2 linked regions of the Homo sapiens genome follow. Each later gene encodes a partner of the first gene's protein in a complex. Each region holds a gene or a part of one and is shown in the gene's direction. Other genes may lie near its edges. The genes, in order: LSM6 and SNRNP200.

Evidence for each region.
Region 2: LSM6 (region 1) and SNRNP200 share a complex: the UniProt entries of both Homo sapiens proteins name them as parts of the U4/U6-U5 tri-snRNP complex.

The regions. Positions count from the first base shown.
Region 1 is NC_000004.12:146,178,672-146,182,492, forward strand, and holds part of LSM6 (U6 snRNA-associated Sm-like protein LSm6), read left to right. Parts: intron 1-3,821. UniProt on the Homo sapiens protein: Plays a role in pre-mRNA splicing as component of the U4/U6-U5 tri-snRNP complex that is involved in spliceosome assembly, and as component of the precatalytic spliceosome (spliceosome B complex).
Region 2 is NC_000002.12:96,291,726-96,295,546, reverse strand, and holds part of SNRNP200 (U5 small nuclear ribonucleoprotein 200 kDa helicase), read left to right. Parts: coding exon 1-59; intron 60-2,037; coding exon 2,038-2,231; intron 2,232-2,451; coding exon 2,452-2,575; intron 2,576-3,646; coding exon 3,647-3,796; intron 3,797-3,821. UniProt on the Homo sapiens protein: Catalyzes the ATP-dependent unwinding of U4/U6 RNA duplices, an essential step in the assembly of a catalytically active spliceosome. Plays a role in pre-mRNA splicing as a core component of precatalytic, catalytic and postcatalytic spliceosomal complexes.

The DNA.
Region 1 (3,821 bases):
GCTCAGTGGCATAACTCAAATCACATGAGATAGATTTCTTTGCATCTGTCCATTGTATTTCTCTGAGGCTAATTTACAGCACTTTGTCACGTTAGGTATTTTTTTTCCCCAGTGCTGCTACTCTCCAACTGGATTTCTCACCGCCTCTATTGCGATTCCCCAAGATTTAACCAGAGAATCTTAACATATTCAGAAGGGCAGCTGTACCTGTGAAAGGGCTTGGGCTTTGGGGTCAGCCTTGGCTTTGCTTTCCACCTCACAGGGTTTCTCTGTAAATTGCTTATGAATCTAACTCTGGTAGCACATAGTTGGGTTAATAAAAGTTCTTTTTTTTCTTCATTCTTTTACCAAAAAGAAAAAAATTCCCTGCAGGGCACTTTGCAGATGTTTTCATACTAGACCTCTCAGTAGCTTCTGACAGAAAATATACTGCCTTTGACTTAATAGTCATTTATGAAAATAGGTCATTTAAAACAAGCCTGAGTAGGAGTCAGGGGAGGGAGAGGAGGTATAGAGAGTGATTATGACTTTAATTTTGAAAGGAGAAGTTTTACCAGGGTGACCCTGAAGAAAGGTCTTTTTCCTCTTATGTGTTTATGGTTCAAGAGACTCATCTCTTGCTTCAGAAATTGTCAGAACTGTTTCTTCTGCTTTATCCAATTTAAAAGATGAAAACTTAAAATTACTTGAGCCAAGTGATGGGAAAAATTGTGGTGTCAAGACCAATTTACTCATACAAAATGGATTTATGGGCAAGTCATTAAGTAACAGGGAGTAGCAAGGAAGCCTAATGAAGACTAATGTAAAAGATACGGCTTTCCTAAAGTGATGGATAAAATGTGTTTGAGGCAACCCATATACTCTTTTCCAAATAACCTTAGAAGTATTTTTTTTCCAAGAGGTTTAGTAGAATGTAGATATTCTAGAGAACAGATGAGAAGCTTGTGAGCCCCTCTTGTCATGTGGCTTACAGTATTTTGAGGGAGAAAAGACCCACATAAAGAATACAAAAGAGGGCATAGTGACAGGTTATAGCAAATAAAATCAAATGCCAAACTATGTGATGCCAAAAGTAGGTGAGATGGGCATCTGCACTCTGCTATGGAAAGTAGAGAGTGGAACCCAAGCAAGTTCCTGCTTAAAACCCCTGTTTCCTATCATTGACAACAGTATTTCCCCTTGCCAGTTATTTCCTAGGCTTGTTCAAATAGATTGCTGGCTCCTACCCCAGAACTACTGAGTAGAATCTCCAGCTGATCCTAATGATTCAAGTTTGGGAAACTGACCCAGAGCCTCAACTCTGTGCTCCCTGTGAATGTGGCACAGCTCCCTGCCGCAGAGGCGTCTCCTCCTTGCCTATGTAGATTTTACGTTCTACCCAGACACTTGTTCCGTGCCTTTTCTGACTTCTCTTCTTTCAGCTAGGGGGTGACGCCTTTTCCTTCAAATTCAGCTCAGGTGTTAACTTCCAGAAATTCTTTGATCTGCCAAGCCTGGGGTAAGAGAGTGTTCTCTGCCCTTTTGTGCATAATTCTATCAGAATACACATCACCTTTGTAAAATTCTGCATTTACATGTTTCTTGCCCTCTCTGGAATGTAAACTCTGAGGGCTTAAGGCCTTGTCTTTGTGTTACATTCCCCAACCCTGTGCGCCTGAACTTGACAGGTGCTCCGTGAAAGTTGGAAGTGTTGATTGCCTTCAGGAAGAGATTGATGTTAATTGGAATACAGATAAAGCATAATGGACAAGGCGTTATCTTTGGTGAGCTTAGAAGAACATATCTGTGTTTATAAAAAGGTGTGGAAAGTTAATATTAATAATACTTTTAAAATAACCTATACTGTCAAGCAACTGATAGTCAAGATTTGCATTCTTTTTTCTGACAGTTATTAACTCTTTCCAGCTTTTGCTTTTCAAATGTTTTTAATCTGAAACTGTAAATACTCTATGAGCAGATGAAATTAGTAATAATTAAAGTAGTTAATATCTCCATGAACTAGAATCACATTACAAAGCATTTTAGTGATTTTTAACACAAAATAGCTACTTTTATCTCAGTTTTATACATAATGAAACTGTGGCATAATGGGATTTAGCATCTGTGATAGGAAATGCACCTGACTCATCAGTTGAGTATCAGGCCTTCAGAGTTAATATTCTCTCTAGATGTGTTCAGCCTCAAAACAGCATGTATTCAAAATGTAAATAAGGCGGTTTATAGATGAATGGGAAGATTTGTGTATTTTCACTAAACTCATTAAAGGTACTGAATCTGTTACAGTATTTATTTTGTATTTTTTCACTTTGTACTCAGAACAGTGTAAATAAAATTACTGTGTGATCTGAGTCCTGAATGAAAAGTGGTTGTCCTGAATAGTAGTTGTAATAGTAGTTGTAATTGTAGTTATCTGTTGAGATTGTGGAGCTAATAAAATAAGCTAGAAATTCAGTGGAAAAGTTAAGTTAACATTTGTTGAGCAAAATAATTTATTGCATTTTAAAAACATCTTTCAAACCTTGGGGGCAGTGTAGATTGTCCAAATGATAGCCCAAAATTCAAAGATAATTTCTGAAATTTGTATTTTCTTTTATTTGACTTAGGATGTTGACTTTTCTTGGCTAAATAAAATTATTTTACTTAAATTATGATTGCGTTTGTTTACTCACACTCTTTAAATGAGTTTAAATTCTTCTAGATTTTAAGTTCTTTAAGGCAGAGCCTTTGTGTATGACATGTTTTTGAATTTCCTTGCTCAGTGTGTACATGTACATGTAATTTGTTGAGCCCAGTAACCTAGAGTTCCAGCTTACTACAACTGCTGATCCCGTGTGAATTCACTATGAGAACGTCTCCAAATAATCCTTCTCCACACAAACTCAGATTATTGAGTGGATGGACTTAGAATGAAATAAGCATAGTGGAAGAATGTTTAATGAAAAAATAATGGAAGAATATTTAATGAAAAAATTTCATTGAAAACAAAAGAACAGCTTGAGTTCTTGAAGGGAATCCTTAAAATATTGTATCCATACTAACTTTTAAGTCTCAGTGCTATATAGCTGCTGAATAATAGTGATGCTGAATTTGACTGAAACAGAAAAATTAATTTCTGAAATATTTTTACTCAGTTTTTGCTTAACTACAGTTTTATTAACTTACCAACATATTTTGAAAGAGAGCTATTTTATAAGAAAAGATGCGTTTTGAAAGGAGTGATGTGCAGCTTTGCATGTCTGATGCTGTTGATTTGGGTGTGTAATGCTATCTCTTTTTCTGTGTTAGACTCCTGTTATACTTGAGTTTTAAGACTTTTTTCTTCATTATTTAGAGCACATATCTGCTATAGTCCTAATAGAGTAATTAAAAATCTTTGACTGTGTTATTGACTTTCAGAAAGCTGTTTAAGGTTGTGATTAAGAGTATGGGCTGGCTATCCACTTTCTAGCTGTGTGACCTTGAGCAGAGTGTTTAATCTTTCTGTGTCTTCTTCTTCATGTGTAAAATGAGGATAAAAACAATACCTCCCTTTTAGGGTAGAGCAATTTAAATTGATTAATATATATAAAGTTCTTGGAAAAGTGCTGGCATATAGTACACTCAAAATTACCTTTAGATTATAATTCTTTTCAGAGATACCATTTAGGCATCAGTTGTTCATAAATATGTCTGTTCTATATAATACGGACTTTAAAATAGGGCTGATTTGAACTTGAATGTTCCATCACATTTGGGAACAAATTATTTAATCTTTCTGTGCCTTTACTTTTCATCAGCAAAATGAGGGTATTAAGACCTTCTTCCCATGGTTCTTGTAAAGA
Region 2 (3,821 bases), on another chromosome or scaffold:
TCATCACCCGCAAGGGTGGTGAGCGCACCTACACCCAGCTGGTGCGGCTCATCATTCTGGTGAGTTGGGAGCAGTCGTAGAATATAGAGTCCAGTTGTGTCAGGGCGGGTTTGCTGGGTTTTCATGCGAAATGTTTCTTTGCTGCCTTTTCTGTAGGCACTAGCCTTTGTAATGACTAGTCCTCCAATTCCGTAGGATGAGATCCATCTTCTCCACGATGACAGAGGTCCTGTCTTAGAAGCTTTGGTGGCCAGGGCCATCCAAAACATTATAATGACAGCTATTGTCAGCTTGTGTTTGCCATCTTATTTATTTATTTATTTGTTTGTTTGTTTGTTTGAGATGGAGTCTAGCTCTGTCGCCCAGGCTGAGTACAGTGGCACGATCTTGGCTCACTGCAGCCTCTGCCTCCCGAGTTCAAGCAATTCTCCTGCCTCAGCCTCCCCTGTAGCTGGAATTACAGGCGCCTGCCACCATGCCCAGCTAATTTTTATATTTTTAGTAGAGACTGGGTTTCACTGTGTTGGCCAGGCTGGTCTCGAACTCCTGACCTCGTGATCTACCCACCTCAGCCTCCCAAAGTTCTGGGATTACAAGCGTGAGCCACTGCGCCTAGCCTGCCATGTTATTCTTTATATATTTTTTTATGTCTGAAATATTTTACTACACTTGATCTTAAGCCAAAAGGCCAAGAAGCTATGTCTGAAATATTTTGAAACAAATGTAAACAGATAGACAAAAAACCATCATATCCAACATCATTTAGGGTTTTATAAGTAAAAGAATCCATTCTCTGAGGGAATGAGTGAGGAAGCAGGATATTGTATTCCATATACACAGAAACTTCCAGAGATTAGTGACTAAGTCTGAGTATAGTTTAAGTTGTCTGGGAAAAGCAAGAAAGGAGACTTCACGTGTTGGTTTTCAGTGTTCTGGAGCAGGGGTTGGCAGTCTGTGGGTACTGGCTTTGTTCTGTTGGAACATAGTTACACCCATTTGTTTATGTATTGTTTACAGCTGCTTTTGGCTGCAATGGCAGAGCTGAGTATTTGCAATAGGGGCTGCGTGGGCCAAAGCCTGAAATACTGACTGTCTGGCTTTTTTTTTTTAGACGGAGTTTCACTCTTGTTGCCCAGGCTGGAGTGCGATGATGCAATCTCAGCTCACTACAGCCTCCGCCTCCCGGGTTCAAGCAGTTCTCCTGCCTCAGTCTCCCGAGTAGCTGGGATTACAGTTGCCCGCCACCATGCCCAGCTAATTTTTTGTATTTTTAGTAGAAATGGGGTTTCACCAATCTGATGGCCAGGCTGGTCTCGAACTCCTGGCCTTGGGTGATGCACCTACCTCAGCCTCCCAAAGTGCTGGGATTACAGGCGTGAGCCACTGCCCCCGGCTTTTTTTTTTTTTTTTTTTTGAGATGGAGCATCTGACTTTTTAAAAAAAACATTTCTGGTCCCTGCTTTAGAGCTTTGCTACTTGAAGCCTGATCCATGGTTGGGGTCATAGCAGCAGCAGCATGGAATAGGAGCTTGTTAGAAATGCAGGATTTGTGGCCTCACCCCACACCTGCTGAATACAATCTCCTTTTTAACAACATCCCCTGGCTTTGGGATACTTAATAAAATTTGAGATGCACTGCTTTAGACTATTCAAACTCATCATTTGATGTGTGATAGCTTTTGTTCTTGGGAACTATAACTGCCAGAGGTGAAGCTTCTGATCAGATCATATTTATATCCTTTTTCATAAAGAAGTTTACCTTTAAGTAAAGTTTAAACTCATTTATCTGAGTTTCAGAATTTCTTTATACAAAGTATGTTACTGAACTGTACCAAAGCAACTCATGGTCAGAGTCTGTTACTTTCTGGAGTATTTCATGGGAAATATTGTCTCCATCCTTTGGGCATCTGTGGCTTGGGATCCCTTGTCTTTTTTCTTAGGCATATTAGGTTATATGCCTACAATATGGGACAATTCCAGGAAAAGGGACTATGTATCTCTAGTGCTAGAGGTAATTTCTGTCCTCCAATTCCGTAGGATGAGATTCATCTTCTCCACGATGACAGAGGTCCTGTCTTAGAAGCTTTAGTGGCCAGGGCCATCCGAAACATTGAGATGACCCAAGAGGATGTCCGACTCATTGGTCTCAGTGCCACCCTACCCAACTATGAAGATGTAGCCACCTTTCTACGTGTTGACCCTGCCAAGGGTCTCTTTTACTTTGACAACAGGTATCAGGAAAGACTGGGCAAAGTTCTGCCAAGGTGACCATCCTGCTCTCTTTCCTCTTTTCCAAGGAGTGCTACTGGGTTGGGTTTTAGAAGGGCCTTTGGGTTTTGATGTGGTGTGAATCATAAAGGAGGAATATTGCTCTTGGGGCAGTGAAAAAGACTGTTTATTCCCACAGTATTTTCTGCCAAAGCCTCATTTGTCTAACTGTTGAACTTCTAGCTTCCGTCCAGTGCCTCTGGAACAGACATATGTGGGTATCACAGAGAAAAAAGCTATCAAGCGTTTCCAGATCATGAATGAAATCGTCTATGAAAAAATCATGGAACATGCTGGAAAAAATCAGGTTTGCCCGTGGTTTATGGTTACTCTTGAACCCCATTCTTTCGAATGTTTGATTCACCAATAATTGGGGAAGATTGACAGAAATTAAAAGAGAGAAGACACAACATAAATCACCAATATCAGCTATGAAATGGGATATTACTACAGAACCTATAGCCACTGGAAGGATAATAAGGGAATACTATGAGTAATTTTATGCTCATAACTTTAAAAATTCAGAAGAAATGGACCAGTTCTCCAACAACTACCAGTTAACTAGCAAAACTCAGCCCAGATGAAATAGATAACATGAAGAGCCCTACAACTATTAGAGAGTTGGAGAATTAAAAATCCCCCCAGCAAGCAATCCCCAGTCCCAGATAATTGTTTTGTGCATTCGCATTATCCAGGGTCCCTCCATAAAAGATTTGGGGTCACTTACACTAAAAATGCAAGACAATAAAAAGAGGAAAATGAAAAACTAGAGGGCATTTTACTAGACAGTGTGATAGAATTTTTAAATTGAAAGTCGAGTTGAGCAATGTTAACTAACAAAAAATAAGGAAAAGTGACTGGTTTTGTATTTCTTTTTGTCTGATGAAAAGAAGCATATGAATTTATATGAAGAGACAGATCTTTTCTTGGCACTAAATACTAGGAAGACTTCATTCCCTACAACAGTGTACTAGTCTCAGACTTATTTCCTAAATCCTTTTATAAGTAGTGTAATGTTTTAGTTGTTATTTTGCAGACACATTTTCATGCAGCTTTGACTCTTGTTAGGTGCTTGAACATAAATTCTGAGTTGAGAGGCCCGAATTTGTAGTTGTAGTCTATTTAAAGTTGCTGTTCAAGATAGGATGTTGAAGTTGGTTTAATTTCTCAGCTCCAGGACTGTGAACTTGGTGGGTGCATTCCCTTAAAAGTCTTTCCAGCCGTGTTTAGGCTTCCTCTGAGCCTGCACACATTCCTGCCCTTGCCCCTCTCCAGGACCTTGGCTTCTGGTGGTGATGGTGCAACTTCTGCTTCCTGCTGCAGGTGCCCTGGGGCTGTGAGTATCTCGTGACTGTAGCAAACTGTGGCTTCTCCTTAGGTGCTGGTGTTTGTCCACTCCCGGAAGGAGACTGGAAAGACAGCCAGGGCCATCCGGGACATGTGCCTAGAAAAGGACACTCTGGGTCTGTTTCTGAGGGAGGGCTCAGCCTCCACAGAAGTCCTGCGAACAGAAGCTGAGCAGTGCAAGGTGAGGAGGGGCCAGCTGGGTTCTC